2 separate regions of the Homo sapiens genome follow, and region 1 is linked to region 2. Evidence: fine-mapped expression QTL. Tissue or cell type: blood mononuclear cells. Region 2 holds a variant in brackets; the other region holds the start of a gene. All regions are shown on one strand. Distances are between the middles of the regions. Region 1 holds the start of WDSUB1 (WD repeat, sterile alpha motif and U-box domain containing 1). Region 2 overlaps WDSUB1 (WD repeat, sterile alpha motif and U-box domain containing 1).

Region 1 (8,340 bases), 22 kb after region 2:
AGGTTGCAGTGAGCTGATATCGTGCCACTGCACTCCAGCTTGGGTGACAGAGCGAAACTCCATCTCTAGAGTTCTAGAAAATAGAGTATTTTCTATTCTAATAAACTATCTTAGCTGTTCCCTTCACAGGATGGAGCCAAGGCTATCTGCTCCGCCTTCAAAAAAAAAAAAAGAAAAAAAATCTAACACTGCAGCTGATCTGACAAGAGGTGGAGCTCACTCATGCCCTCACCTCCTGCTGTGCAGCCCAGTTCCTAACAGGCCATGATGGGTACCAGTCCTCGGCCCTGGGGGTTGGGGATCTATGTTTTGTTTTTGTTTTGTTTTGTTGAGACAGGATCTCCCTCTGTCATCCAAGCTTGAGTGCAGTGGCATGTTCTCAGGTCACTGCAACTCCCGCCTCGCGGGTTCAAGTGATTCTCCCACCTCAGCCTCCCAAGTAGCTGGGATTACAGGCATGTCCCACCACGCCCGGCTAATTTTTTGTATTTTTAGTAGAGACCGGGTTTCCCCATGTTGGCCAGGTCTTGAACTCCTGGCCTCAAGTGATCCGCCCACCTCAGCCTCCCAAAGTGCTGGGATAACCAGCGTGAGCCACCGTACCCGGCCAAGGGAGCTCTGTTTTAAAGGACAACCTGTTACCTGGGATAAGAACAATTTGGAGAAAAAAAAATCTATAAGACTATAACCTCTGATTCTCACAACCACCGTTGTCATACCAATAAATTTCCACAACTCCTCAAAAAGAACCTTCAAACTGTCAAATAACTTCAAACTGATTTGATGTTGAGCTTTCAAAACCTAAGGTGTTTATTTCACCTTTGAAGCCTTTCTCATAAGGAGTTCTCAAAAATACCTCACTCCAGATCTGCTCATCTCAACTCAAAAAGTATTTTCTATTCTAATAAACTATCTTAGCTGTTCCCTTCACAGGATGGAGCCAAGGCTATCTGCTCCGCCTTTAAAATCAAACTGTAGGATTTGCTCTTAAAAAAAAACAACAAAAGTCTCATTGAAAATTTATTAATAAGTGACCATGTTGAAAGCTGTCCTATCATGGTTTGTCATCCTGTCTGATAAATAGTAAAATTATACAAAAGACTTGAGGTGAGGAACCACCTCTGAATGAATCAAGGAAACCAAGAAAAGAAAACCTAAGAAAGTGTCAAAAAATGAACTTAGCCAGACCACGCTCAAGAACAAATTTACAAATTTAGAATAAAATCAAACTCATCATGGCAAACAAAATCCTATACAGTCTTATGTAATCAAAATCCTATATAATTCCCGCCTGCCCACTTCTCAGATCTCAACTCTGGCCACTGTCCCTCTCTTCTTTCCAGCCTCCTTGGCCTAACAGTCTTCCGTCTCCATAAAGCGGTTTTCTCAAGCTGAAATGTTCTTGCCTCTGCTCTTGGGATCCTATTTGTCATTTAGATCTCAATTTCAGTGTCTCTCCTCAGAGACGGTTTCCCTATTTAAAGTAGCCACTCCCTAGGCTAGCACATCACTCTATATTCTCAGCAATTACCACCAGCATCGGATATTTGTTAAATTGTCTCCTCCGACTAGGATGTAAATCCCAAAGGAGTAGGTACTTTGCCATCTTGCTCATTTCTGTATCCACACCATGTAAAACTGTCAGGCACCTAATGTACTTAAATAAATATAAGTTGAATATTTATTTTGTTCGAGCCCAACTGAGTTCCAGCCTTTAAATAATCCATATGTAATATGAAATTAGAAAATCTACCAAGACTAAATATATATACACACACAGAAACATAACTGACGGTGGAAAACTGGTGTCAAGTGAGGCAGAATCAGCTCTGAAAGGGGCAGGTATAACCTTGACTTGTAAAATTGATAATCCTTTGTCCTAGTCTTATTTACGGAAACACCTCTACCAAAGAAAAAAAAAGTCTGGGCGCGATGGTGCACACCTGTAGTCCCAGCATTTTGGGAGGCCGAGATGGGTGGAACACTTGAGCCCAAGAGTTTAAGACCAGTCTGGGCAACAAGGCAAGACCCCATCTCTCTAAAAATAAAAATAATTAGCTGGGTGTGGTGGCGAGCACCTGTAGTCCCAGCTACTCGAGAAGCTGAGGCGGGAGCATCACTTGAGCCCCGGAGGTGACGCCGGCGGTGAGCTGTGATTGCACCACTGCACTCTAGCCTGGGCAACAGAGCAGGACCCCATCAATCAATCAAACAAATATTAAGGCATAAGGAGCATGCCTTTCCCTATCTTCATCTTATCCTTTTAGGATAAGTTCAGCTTCTTTTCTTCGAACATAAACTCCAATAAAGCCTAAAAACCAAACACGAAAATTTCTGGTAGACTATCCCTGTACTGCTGTCTTGAAAACAATCAAGACCAGGTGGTGCTTTCTGGAGAGCTCGCAAATCCCAGCTGTGCAAGTGCGCACAGGTGATTTTCCAAACAAACTCCGGCTCCCAGCCCTCTGCCGCACTCAGCTCCCTTTGCAAGTTCCAGGGCATTCAGTGGGAAGTACCGAGGCCACCGTCAGCTGAACAGTTTGTTTTGAAAAAGCTCTCAGGCCTACCCAGGACCTGCCTTGGGGTAGGGGGGGCGGTGTGGGCGTTCCCTCGGGCCTCGGCTGTCACGCGAACAGTAAATTCCCGGGCACACCAGGTCAGTTGGCCAGCGTAAACACATGAATCCCATCTCATTCAAAGCAAACCCGAAAGGTGTCCAGCGCTCCCAAAATAAAGTCCGCCACTTACACCCCCCATGCACGAAAGACCAGGAATGTGCCCCCCTCTATGAGCGGCCGGGCCTCTGTGGACTGAGCGACCCCAGGCAAGAGGGAGGCCTGGGAGGCAGGGAGCTCACCCGCAAGGGGCTTCCTTCCACCCGACGCCGACACGCCCGCCCTAGCCCCGGGCCAAGGGTGCACGAACCACGCCTCGCCGCACTCAAGGTCCCGGTTGGGCCCTGCTGCGCGGTTAGAACCGGGAAATGGAGGGCTCAGACGCCCCGCGCGAGCAGGCCCAGCCGCGCTTCCCCACCTGCCGCCACCGCCGCTGAGCCGGCCCGTGGGCGCGGCCGCTCTCACCTGCAGGAGCGGGGGCGCGCGGGATCCGCCTTCAAGGTGCCCACGGGCGGTGCGGGTCACGTGCCGCGCAGGTGAGGCTGGCGGGGCGGGCGCCGGCGGAGACCCAGAGCAGAGGGAACAGGCCCCGCCCCCGAACGCCCGCGGGGACCCAGAGCGGAGGGAACAGGCCCCGCCCCCCGAACGCCCGCTGTGACCCAGAGCGGAGGGAGTAGGCCCCGCCCCGCGAAAGCCTGTGGAGACCCAGGGCGGAGGGAACAGGCCCCGCCCCCGGGACCGGCCCCTGAGGCGGCGCATGCGCGCTCTTCCGCCCGGACTGCGAGTTCCTCCCCAGCTTCTGGCTCCTAGGGTCAAGGCGATTTCAGGCTTGGAAAGGGACTTCCGTCGCAAATCTTTCTGTTTTTGCTAAAGCTGCGGTCGCAAGGCCTAGTGATCGCCTGAAACGTCGTTTTAAAGGGGCGTTGCATGGAATGTTCGGCCATCCCTGCTGAAAGTTTTTACCTCTTTCTCCAGTTCTCCACCCTGCACTGTGTACTCCGAGGCCGGTCTCCCAGATTGGCCTTCTCTATTTCGGCCACCCTGGGCGGTCCGTGACTTGGCGTCTTCTGCCCTCGCCTCCTCATTCGGGTTCCCCTAGGGGTCTCTCCCGGGCAGGCTGCCTGCCCCGGGCCCCAGCCCTGCCGTTGGGTGGGTATCCTGAGCTCACTGGAACCCCGGGCGCCTTTTCTTCAGCCTTTCCCAGTGCGTCCCACTGGCTCACGGTAGACTGGTTTCCACGTGTCATTGACTACAAAGTGGCCCTGCCAGTGCTTTTTGAGATAAAAATTATCCAGAAAAAAAAAAGTTCCTGAGCAAATTACCACTTGTTAACTAAATGCACAACATAGTGTGGGACTATGTTCAGATGAAAATCAAAGATACAGAGAGCTTTTATTTTTAATCCATGAGGAAACATTAAAAATATATCAGCCTGTGGAGACCGAAGTTACATTTGAAGAGTAATGACCTAAAATGCTCACATTTAAAGATGAAATTGAGACCGTGGGAAACTATTTGCAATGAAAAAGATTAAGGGGAAAGGGAAGATTAAAAATTAGGATTTTGTGAAGTTCTTGTTAATTTTTTAAAATTAGCGGAGTGCATCATGATTGAGACTTTGAACACCAAATTCCATTCCAAAGTATTGCCAAAACAGTATTTTTCTAAAAACAAGTTTTTGATTGTATAAATAATAGAGCTCTCTGTAGGAAACACAGAATATATAACAGGAAAATAAATAGTCAATAATTACACCCCTCAGAGATCACCCACTCAGAGATAACATTTTCTCTCAGTCTTTCAGAAAAACTAATTTTACAAAAAGTCCTGGAAACTGCCTTTTTAAACAAACTTGTGTCATGAGCTGTTCCCATGTCTAAAATTTCATTAGCTTTTTTTTCTACATAATGGTCTACATATAAACATACCATAAATTATTTAACATTTTCCCTGTTGCTGGATGGTTTCAACAATTTTGATCTTAGTGTAGATAATGCTGGATTAAATATCTTTGTACCTAAATCTTTTTCTTTTAGCCTCAATATATTACCACGTTATGTACATAAATCTTTTTCCATATTTATGAATATGTACTTAGGATAAAAATTGAAATGGAGGCCAGGTGCGGTGGCTCACGCCTGTAATCCCAGCACTTTGGGAGGCCAAGCTGGGTGGATCACCTGAGGTCAGGAGTTCAAGACCAGCCTGGCCAACGTGGTGAAACCCCATCTCTACTAAAAATAGAAAAAAATTAGCCAGGCATGGTGGCACGCACCTGTAATCCCAGCTACTCAGGAGGCTGAGACAGGAGAATCTCTTGAACCCAGGAGGCTGAGGTTGCAGTGGGCAGAGATCTCCCCATTCCACTTCCAGTCTGGGGGATAGAGTGAGACTTTGTCTCACAAAAGAAAAAAAAGGAAATGGAATCACTGGGCATAAAGGTGTAGACAGTTTTAATAAGTATTACCATACTGCTCTTCAGAGAGGTTGTACAGTTTACACTCTCAGCAATATGTAGTTGTGTTTGTCTCTCCACTTTCTTGTCAAACTTGAGGGATACCTTTTTTATCTACACTAATTTGTGTGTGGGTTTTTTTGTTTGTTTGTGAGATGGAGTCTTGCTCTGTCGCCCAGGCTGGAATGCAGTGGCAGGATCTTGGCTCATTGCAACCTCTACCTCCCAGGTTCAAGTGATTCTCGTGCCTCAGACTCCCAAGTAGCTGGGATTACAGGCGCCCGCCACCGCGCCCGGCTGACTTTATGTATTTTTAGTAGAAACAGGGTTTCACCATGTTGGCCAGGCTGGTCTCGAACTCCTGACCTCAAGTTATCCACCCGCCTCAGCCTCTATCTACACTAATTTGATAAGCCAAATTGGTTATAATATTCTTTAAGTAAAATATATAAAAGAAGCCCGTGACTACACCTGCCAGTAGTTTAGCACCATGACCTCATGTCCAGTATAGTCAGCTTTGCCTGTCCTACAGAGACAGGCAGTTTCAAAGATAGAAGCCTCATTGAGGCTGGTCTCCAGAGATCTAACTACTTTAACACTCTGTCCTGTACCAGTTCACTCTACAAATCTATAAATTCTTATAAATGTATCTTTATAAATTCTGTTTCTATAGTATATTGGCAAGATATTTTAGTTAACATCTCCCAAAGTAGTTAGACCTTTGATTTGGAATATTAAAGATTTGAATGTTTTATGCATTCCTCACCCTAATTGTGTAGCTGTGAAAATCTTATTTAAGGCTGGGTGCGGTGGCTCACACCTGTAATCACAGCACTTTGGGAGGCCAAGGTGGGCAGATCATTTGAGGTCAGGAGTTCAAGACCAGCCTGGCCAACGTGGTGAAACCCCGTCTCTACTAAAAATACAAAAATTAGCCAGGCGTGGTGGTGCACACCTATAATACCCACTACTGAGGAGGCTGAGGCAGGAGAATTTCTTGAACCCGGGAGGCAGAGGTTGCAGTGAGCCGAGATCGAGCCACTGCACTCCAACCTTGGCAACAGAGTGAGACTGTGTCTTCAAAAAAAAGAAAATCTTATTTAAGGATAAAAATCCCATTTTGTCATTAATTTCTTGTTCTGCTCCTTAAAATAATGCTACTTGAAGAATATAGAAAACAATTTTAAGTGATGTATTTAAAGAAAAACCACCTTTTCTTTTCTTTTTTTTTTGAGACGGAGCAAGCTCTGTCGCCCAGGCTGGAGTGCAGTGGTGCGATCTCGGCTCACTGCAAGCTCCACCCCTGGGTTCACGCCATTGCCCTGTCTCAGCCTCCCGAGTAGCTGGGACTGCAGGTGCCAGCCACCATGCCCGGCTAATTTTTTTATTTTTGATAGAGATGGGGTTTCACCATGTTAGCCAGGATGGTCTCGAATTCCTGACCTCATGATCTGCCCGCCTCTGCCTCCCAAAGTGCTGGGATTACAGGGGTGAGCCACCGCGGCCAACCAGAAAAACCAACTTTTCTTTTTTTTTTTTTTAATTTTATTATTATTATACTTTAAGTTTTAGGGTACATGTGCACAACGTGCAGGCTTGTTACATATGTATACATGTGCCATGTTGGTGTGCTGCACCCATTAACTCGTCATTTAGCATTAGGTATATCTCCTAATGCTATCCCTCCCCAACTTTTCAATTAAATAGTAAGCAATACATGTTGTCAAAATACAGTGGCAACGGGAACCGAATAGATGTGAAGCAATGAGTGAGCCACCAATTACTAAAATATGTGGTCCTGAGTAAACAAGAGCTTAACGGAGAGATGAGAGGCGCCTGTGAAGTTGGAAAAGGTGGGCATAAGAATGTGTGCTAACTAGACCTGAAGTCTAGGCCGGCTGAGGGGTGAGCTTTGGAAACACCCAGTTTCACAGGAAATACTCAGGCATGTATTGAGGTTGTTTTCCTTTGCAGGCAAACCCAATGTCAGAGTTTCCAGAACAGTTGGACAAGGTAGAGCTCAAGGTATAAAAACTCCCTTGAGGTGTTCAGTTTATGAAATTATATCAAGCTGAACGCATGAAATTTGCCTTTTTCTATGTGTATATTACACTGCAGAAGACGTTTTTAAAAACATCCTGGCAGATTGCCCAGAGATTATCTCATATCTGATGCAACCATCAACTCTCCACATCTGGTATGAGCCACAGTGCCACCTCCTTGTAGAGAACTCTGGGGAGCTGGAAAGCTGCAACTCTGCCTGGGAGCAAGATAACTTCTGCATCATAAAATGTTCTCTTAATTTGCTTTATCCTTTGCCACTATGTAAAATTTACACCTTCGAACTGGCCATCTTTTCATTAAACCATTCAGAGTCCCTGTGTGCCAACCCAGTAGTAAGAATTAGCAGAGTTCTTTAGAAACAACTGGAATTCCATACAGGAAAAAAGAAAGATCCAGGGGCTGCCTAACAACAAAACAGAGGGTTGGGATGAGATGGTGTATATTGGGCACAGTGAGAACTGCCTGACAGCAGAAAATATGCATATGGCTGGAAGTAAGAATACCAGAAAGAAATGTAATGACATGTATGAAACTTGGTATTTGGTACACACTAAAAAATTTTTTTGCAATTCTCACTGTGCCTTTTTCTGCCTTTATGGTACAAGAAATATTTTTTGCTTATGAAATTTTTATTTTGTTTTGTTGGTTTTGTTTTTGTTTTGTTTTCCAATTCCTGGGCTCAAGCGATCCTCCCACTTCAGCCTCCTGAGTAGCTGAGACTACAGGCGTGCAACACAAACCCCAGCTCATTTTTTGATTTTTATTTGTATAGAGACAGGGTCTCACTATGTTGCTGAGGCTGGTCTCAACTCCTGGGCCCAAGCAATCCTCCCCCCTTGGCCCCCCCACCAAAGTGCTGGGATTACAGGCATGAGCCACTCCGTGCCCAGCTTTTGTTTATGAAATTTTAAATTGCAGTTTACATTTTTTCATTTTCTTATTGTCTCATTTTCTCAAATTCTTTATTTTCAGATACTATTATTAATGTTCTTCAAGAGAATTCAAGATGTTAATGCATTTCTGAAAAAAATACTTTTGTTTCCAGATTTATGGTTTTTATTACATAAGGTAAAAATATTACAGATACGGAAAAATTAATTCATTCAACAATAATTCAATTTACAGAATTACAGATTATGTTTCCAGTTTACTGCCTATTATAGTCTGGAATACAGTATTTGATGCTACCAGTCTTTGGCATCTTGT
Region 2 (8,340 bases):
GGTACAAGTTCTTATTTGTGAAATATCTGAAATTCTTAGGCCAAATTCTGCTATTTTGAGCATCCTTAAAACACACACACAACTAAAGAGTGATGTCAGCAAGATGGCAGAGTATAACTTCCCATGCTTGTCCCCTCACAGGGACATCAATTTGAAAAAGTATCCACACACACACAAAAATACTTTCATAACAGCTAAGAAAACCAGGTCTCCAGCTATAGCTACATGGCTGGGGGTCAGGAGCATGTTAAATATTACTTTTCAAGATTATATGATGAGATGAAAGGAAAACTGGTCAACTGAAACTCATATATATATATATATATATATATATATATATATATATATATATATATATTTTTTTTTTTTTTTTTTTTTTTTTTTTTTTTTAAATAAATGAACTGGTCATTGGGTGAACTGGCTTTTGGTTAATTGACCTAGAGCCCAGTTCTGCTTAAGCCTGACTTTTCTAAAGGGATAATTAGCCAAAATTTCATCTGGAGCTGGCTAGAGCCCAGCCATGCTAAGCTTACAAAGAAAATGGTTCTCTCATCTGGCCCCCATTACACTGTCTCAAATAAAATCCTCATTGGTACCACAAATCAAAAACAAAACCCCAAAATTAAAAAGAAATCCCACTTTCCTAGACTACCACCAGAGACAATTCAAACCAACTCATCACTTAATAAGCAGGATTATCCTTAGTGATCTCTATGAGCATTGGATTGGGAAGACAGAAATCAGTGCGACAGGCAAGAGTCCACATATGGGAACGGCAAGCAGTAAGGCTGAAAACACAGCCCCGAACAAAAATACAAAGCACCCTGAGTGTCTGCCCAAGGAATCTGGACGATTTCACAGGCCACAGCTAGCCATGAGGGCAGTGGAATAAGTTCACTTGCTGATGAGGTATAAAAAGGAATTTGAGAAGCGCAAGGCCAAACATGAATAAACCAGTAGGAGACCACTGAATCCATGGAAAAAAAAACAAAAAACGAAAATTATAAACACATGAACAGACCTGCAGGCTCTGGAAGAAAGGATTTTAAACTCACTTCCTATTGCCTTTAGTTTAACTAATGATGATTCCAAGGAAGATGCAATAGGATTTGATAATTCATTAGATTTTGAGGAAGGTAAATTAGGGTTAGGGAAAAATAACAGAAGTTTTCAATATTTTGAGATTTGAGTTTGAGAGATCAGGAGAATAAAAGCCAACTTACATAGACACAAAATAGTTTGAAACTACTGAAGCAATAAAAACCCTCAAAATATTCCCTAAATTGAAGCCAAATCAACAACCACTAAACAAAAAATCCAACTGTTTGGTGTCCCTGGTTATGTATTTTCTTCCTGCTATAGTTCCTCCCCCAAATTTTCAGTACATACATTCTGCCACAATCTGCCCTGTCATCTTTCCCCCAGTTTCCTCATGAGGCAGGTATTCAACCTTTTGATACTCCATTCCTACAGTTTTGTGGTGCTCTAAAACCTCAGCTCTGCTCACTCAAGAATACAAGAGAAACCCGTCAATTATATCTAGACAGCTACTGGACAACATCAACAACACATAGCTATGTGCTTGACATGGACGTGGTGTAATCACAGACTCCTCGAGATCCGTGACATCGCAGTGACCCATCTCAAAACTAACTTTGTACAATGGCCAAAAAACTAATCAAATACAATCACTAGCAATTATTTCCTGAGCCCAAGTATGTTGCTAACATTTAAAGATTTTACACTTCAGTATTTTAATTTTAAATGTATTTATGTTTCTTCTCATTTAGAAAGGATTTGCAGTCTCTTACAAAGATAGAGCAAAAACAAAAGTTATGTGAAGAACCTGAAGGGGAAGAGAACGTAAGAATGAGGTGAGGGGAGAGAATGAAGGTGAAGATTAATATAGATTAATATCAAAAACACGTGTCATAGGTCCTGTCCACTTTGCCAAAGAAAGGTTGCAAGTTTGATTCTGAGCTTCTTCAGTAGCAATGCAAAAAGGAAATATGACCAGTTATGCAATGTAAAATAGAAACACAAACCCAATGCTTGGGGAAAAAGGACATGAAGCCCTCAGACTGAGACCTGACAGGACCACTTTCCCCAAGGCCTTTAGAGGAGGATGCTATGAAACATAAACCGAGTCCTCAACAACTCTTCCTGAATGAAAATAAGTTTCAAAGAGCTGTTCTGTAATGCTGCTTACTGTAAGCTAATGGCTAATAGCTCAATTCAGAAAAATGGGGTAAAATACGTTATATAATTGGTGTTCTGGATTACATAAATTATATCTATTATTTTATGTACTATTTAATATATATGTATTGAGCAGTGATGTCCCAAACATAATAAATGCTTTATCTGCATTTTCTTAATCTTCATAACAATGTTATGAGGAAAGTGCTATTACATTCTCCATTTTATAGTCAGAACATGAAGCTGGGAGAAGACACGGAACCAGAACTTGTTCAAGGTCCTGCAGCTAGTTAAGTGGCAAGGCTGGGGTTAAAACCCAGTTCTGTGTAATTCTAAAACCCATGTTTTTTAATATTATGCTTGCTAAAATATCTTCCCCCAATGTATCAAAATTGATTCAACACAGGCACATACTCTGATGATTTCAGCCTAAAAACTTGAAAAGTGATGGTGTGGCTATTCAAATTTCACTAAAGCTCTCAGAAGACATCTACTTTCAAGCAATCTAGCATCTGATAACCCTCCGTGATACACAGATGGCAACGTGTCCTTTTCAGTTACTAAATGAACTTACTTGTTCAACAGGACTGTTAGCAATATTGTAGAGAAAAAACATGATTTGCATTTTGGGAAAGATAACGTTAAGCCTTCTTCAGCTAGTCATTGCTGAGCAAGAGGGGGCTGTTCATGAAAGCACTCCTAACTCGTGACAATAAACTCTATCATTTACTTACAAAATAGATAAAATATAAACAACTGTCTTGTTGGGGAGAGGAGAAACCTATTTCCCACCCCTTCTGGGGTAAGATTCTTGGCCTCTTTCCTCCCTCTCATGCCTAGCGGAAAATAAATGACAAATAACTGGAGAGTGTGGGGCAAGCGCTGGGCCATGGAGCTGAGCCCCTTCTGGATTTTCTCTTTTTTCTGATCTGCACTGGCAGGGGAAGACTGCAGTGGTCCATGCTGCCCAAGAGCAGGTGGGCAAGTGGGTTGCCGATCAAAAGTCATGTTACCCAGTCCCGTATTGCCCTCTCATTGGTTTTCAACTCAAGAAAAGGAAAAGGGCCAGGCGCAGTGGTTCACATTTCTAATCACAGCACTTTGGGAGGCTGAGGTAGGCGGATCACCTGAGGTCAGGAGTTCGAGACCAGCCTGGCCAACATGGTGAAACCCTGTCTCTACTAAAAATACAAAAATTAGCCAGGCATGGTCGCGGGCACCTGTAATCCCAGCTACTTGGGAGGCTGACGCAGGAGAAGCACTTGAACCTGGAAGGCAGAGGTTGCAGTGAGCTGAGATCGCGCCATTGCAGTCCAGACTGGGTAACAAGAGCGAAACTCCATCTCAAAAAAAAAAAAAAATAAAACAACAACAACAACAACAACAAAAAAAAACAACTCCTAACTGGCTGGGCCTGGTTGCACACACCTATAGTTCCAGCTACTTGAGAGGCTGAAGTGGGATGACTGTTTGAGCCCAGGAAGTCAAGGCTCCAGTGAGCCACTCCAGCCTGGGTAATGGAGTGAGGCCTTATCTCTAAAGCAAGCACACACACCACACACACACACACACACACACACTCACTCTCTCTCTTTTCTTCCTGTCTCTCACACACAACTGTGGGCATTTTAAAAACTCATTTCCAAGGAATCCTAAACTCTGAGACCTTCTGGAAACAGGCAGACTTTATTTGAATTACAAAGACTGACCCGGCTAGGTGTGGTGACTCATGCCTGTAATCCCAACACTTTGGGAGGCCAAGGTGGGAGGATCACTTGAGCCCAGGAATGAGATCCCTGACTCTACAAAAAATACAAAACTTAGCCAAGCATGGTGGCCTGCAAGTGTAGTCCCAGCTACTCAGGAGACTGAGGTGGGAGGATCACTTGAGGCCAGGAGGTCAGGGCTGCAGTAAGCCATGATAGTGCCATCACACTCCAGCCTGGGTGACAGAGGAGACCCTGTCCCAAAAAAAAGACTGACTCTTCCTGTTTTAACAGCGGCTGATATATATAATGTTTGTTGTATCTGGCTAGATCAAGAGAAGTAGGGTGGAACAAAAGACAAATTCTGCTAAGGGGCTGGAGCAAAGTTATTAGGGGACAGAAGTGGAGAAAGACCAAGGGAAAAACCTCTTGCGTATTTTGCTACAGGACCTGTAACGCCATCACAGCTCTGAGGGCTGGTGGAATATGTGAAGCAGATGTGAAAATCCAGCTGTCTTCTGCTATGCCAGACATTAAAAAGATCTTCAAAAATGTAGAACAATGCCACTCTTTTCACTATTTATTTTTTCCTCAAAAAGCTAATATGCAATAATCTATTGCTTTTAAATGAATTTAAAATATTTCAGAATATTCTCGATTGTATTTTCTAGTATTATAAATAGTGATAGATGTAACCCATATAAGCAAAAGCTCTTTAGGGTAATAACTTTTAAGAGTGTCAAGGAACCTTACTTTTTTTTTGAGACAGAGTCTTGCTCTGTCGCCCAGGCTGGAGTGTGGTGGCACGATCTGGACTCACCGCAAGCACCGCCTCCCGGGTTCACGCCACTCTCCTGCCTCAGCCTCCCGAGTAGCTGGGACTACAGGCACCCGCCACAACGCCCGGCTAATTTTTTGTATTTTTAGTACAGATGGGGTTTCACCATGTTAGCCAGGATGGTCTTGATCTCCTGACCTCATGATCCGCCCGCCTC[G/C]GCCTCCCAAAGTGCTGGGATTACAGGCGTGAGCCACCGCGCCTGGCCAAGGAATCTTACTTTTAAGAATGTGAAGGAATCTTAAGACCAAAAAGTATAAGAACCACTGACCTAAATCATGATTCAATTCTTCACTTCTCTATTCTGACCTATAACCGCATTCTGTTGTCCATTCACTTTTCATCTCTAGCCACTTATATTCATCTCTAGACACTAGTCTCCTATAGCTAGGCTTTGCATGTTAGAATTGCTTTAGAAGTTTCAGAAGTTCTCCTAAATTTAATATATAAGGTTTGAACAAGTTCTAACACCATCCTAGGTTCTCAGGGGTTTTTTTGTTGTTTTTTGTTTTGAGTCAGGGTTTCACTCTGTTGCCTAGGCTGGAGTTTAGTGGCACGATTGTGGCTCACTGCAGCCTCCACTGCCTAGGCTCAAGCGATCCTCCCACCTCAGCCTCCTGAGGAGCTAGGACCACAGGTGCAAGCCACCATGCTTGGGTAACTTTTTATTATTTGTAGAGACCAGGTCTTCCTATGTTGCCCAGGCTGGTCTCAAACTCCTGGGCGCAAGTGATCCTCCTGCCTCAGCCTCCCAAAGTGGTGGGATTACAGGCATGAGCCACCATGCCCGGTCCATCCTAGGTTCTCTGTTATCTCTACAATCTGTTTTTCTGGCCTCATTTCTCCTTATTTATTTGAATGTTTATTATACATTTTGATCTACTCAAGAATTTCCTGCCTCCTGGAATGCTCTTTCTGTTCCTCAATCTTCCCATATCTGCATAGAAATTCTATACTGCCTTTTCCAAGGCCACCCCTATCTATGCCATACACACCTTCATTAGTACACCTCTTTTTTCTTTCTTTTTTTTTTTTTAAAGAGACAAGTTCTGACTTTGTTGCCCAGGCTGGAGTGCAGTGGCATGATCATAGGTTGCTGCAGCCTCAAACTCCTGGGCTCAGGGGATTCTCCTGCCTCAGCCTCCCAAGTAGCTGAGACTACAGGCACACACCCCTATGCCCAGCTAATTTCTTTAATTTTTTTTTGTAGGGACTGGGTCTCACTGTGTTGTCCAGGCTGGTCTCAAACTCCTGGCCTCAAGTGATCCTTCTGCTTTGACCTCTCAAAGTGTTGGAATAACAGGCATGAGCTCCACACCCAGCCCTTAGTACACAATACTGACCTACAACCACATTCTGCTGTCCATTCACTTTTCATCTCTAGCCACTTATATTCATATACAGCCTCGTTTTATCCTACTCACTTTTTTTAGTCTCCCTCTTTCCCATACGTATTCATTCTATCTTATCATTGACTTTTAGTCACAAATAGAATCTATCATTAACTAATTGACCTATTTTTATCTACTAAGTATGATTTAAATATGCCTGTCAATTCTTCTAAAAACTAAATGTTTATTAAGTTTATTAATTTACATTTCTCATTCATTTGCCTGTATATTTGTCCAAATAAACTAGAAATATTCAGAAAAATATTTGAATGTGACCTTGAGCAACACCATATACCCAAAAGCACTTGATAATGTAAACTTCCATTTATCCAGAATGATTGGGAAAGACACATTTCCATAAATACAATGTTAACTAAGACACACATATATACAAACTGGCAAAGAATTATACCGCTATAAAATGAACTTAACACAATATTGAGTATCACTTAACACTTCCTCCATGACTCAGAGGATAAGTACATGTCAGGGTCTTGCAGTGTTATTAGTTCATCACTATGAACATCAACTACTAAATAGAAAAGAGGGGATTTAAAATGTCTTCAAGAGCACAAACACTGTCTTATACTTCCTTTTCTATGCCCTATTCCAACTGGCAGAGAGCTGGGCACATAATCATTCTGTCAGCTAACCTGTCCCCTAACACAGCAGACAGAGTTCAACTTTATTTGTTTAAACTTTCCAATGATTTAAATTCTAGGTCAAAAGACAATTACTATAAATACTTTTTGATGATGAATAATCTTCATCTTTAGAGATCAAACAGCCACATCTACAATAATGACAACAACATAACTAGTAATTTGGCTGTTTGGCAAGAATTGGAGCATATGGAAAAAAAGAACCATCAGCCTTAGTCCAGACATTCTAAATGGAGGTTAGGAGCCTAAATATCTTAGCTGGAATGAAAGTTGCTATGAAGAGCCATAAATGTGGGTCAGAATGCTATGACCTGTGAGATCAGACAGGAAAGTTTTAGAAAATCTAATGGCAAGGAGAAAATATACAAAAGTATTCAAAAGGAAAAGAGTATAAAGTAATTGAATCATGAAACGATGTTCCAGCCCATTGCCTAACAGAATAAAGCTTTGAAAAATAAAAGCCAAGGTTGACAACTTCAACACAGAACTGGAAATCATAAAAAGTGACACCACTGAAAAAAATTGCCAAATAGGAATTCTAGGACCAAAAAATAAAATAAGCAAAATTAAGAATTCAATGGACCAGTTTAATATATTAGCTGAAGAAAGGAAAGGGAAAACCATCCAGAATGAAGCATAGGAAACAGGAAAAAACAAACAAACAAACAAAACAGAAGCATAAATACAAAAGAGAGAATAAAGTTTACAGTGAGGTGTAATGTGCCTTTAATTGGAATCCCAGAATTAGAGGACAGAAAGAAAGGAACAGAGGCAATACTTGAAGAGATAATAAATAAGAATTTTCCAAAAGTGGTAAAATATCTTTCCACAGATTTTTTTTTTTTTTTTTTTTTTTGAGATGGAGTCTTGCTCTGTCACCCAGGCTGGAGTGCAGTGGTGTGATCTCAGCTCACTGCAACCTCCACCTCTTGGGTTCAAGCAACTCTCCTGCCTCAGCCTCCTGAGTAGCTGGAATTACAGGTGCCCACCATCATGCCTGGCTAATTTTTGTATTTTTAGTAGAGATGAGGTTTCACCATGTTAGCCAGGCTGGTCTTGAACTCCTGAGCTCAAGTGATAGGCCTGCCTCTGCCTCCCAAAGTGCTGGGATTACAGGCATGAACCACCACGCCCTGCCCAATATCATTCCAAGGATTTAAGAAGTTCAATGAATTCCAAGCAAACTAAATAGGAAACTCATATGTAGATACAAAGTGGATATGCAAAAACCTCAAAACAGAAAATTTCATGAGCAGCCAGAGAAAAACACATGAATTACATCCAAAGGAACAACAGTTAGAATGAAACTAACTTTTCTATAGCAATACACAACAATAATATACCCTAAAATTTGTTTGTTCCAACAAAGCAAGGTTGGTTTAACATTTAAAAATCTTGTAATTCACTCCACTAACAGAGTAACAGAGAAAAATTGTATCATCTCAAAGATGTAGGAAAAATCATCTGATGAAATACAATACCCTTGCATGATTAAAAAAATAACAACAAAACTCTTACAAACTAAAAGGAATAGAAGAATAAAGCTT

Evidence for each region. PIP is the estimated chance that this variant, and not a neighbour inherited with it, causes the effect.
Region 1: it holds the start of WDSUB1, and the variant in region 2 is fine-mapped to the expression of WDSUB1 in blood mononuclear cells (TOPMed, PIP above 0.99).

The regions. Positions count from the first base shown.
Region 1 is chr2:159,283,503-159,291,842 of GRCh38, forward strand. It overlaps WDSUB1 (WD repeat, sterile alpha motif and U-box domain containing 1), which reads right to left and starts at 3,201. Exons shown (of 11, transcript NM_001128212.3): 1 at 3,081-3,201. RefSeq lists silencers at 3,035-3,474, 3,161-3,330.
Region 2 is chr2:159,261,540-159,269,879 of GRCh38, forward strand. The region is part of intron 5 of WDSUB1 (WD repeat, sterile alpha motif and U-box domain containing 1); the gene reads right to left. Among named protein-coding and RNA genes, the nearest start is that of WDSUB1, 21 kb to the right of the region's middle. The variant G/C (reference allele first, on the strand shown) is at 4,901.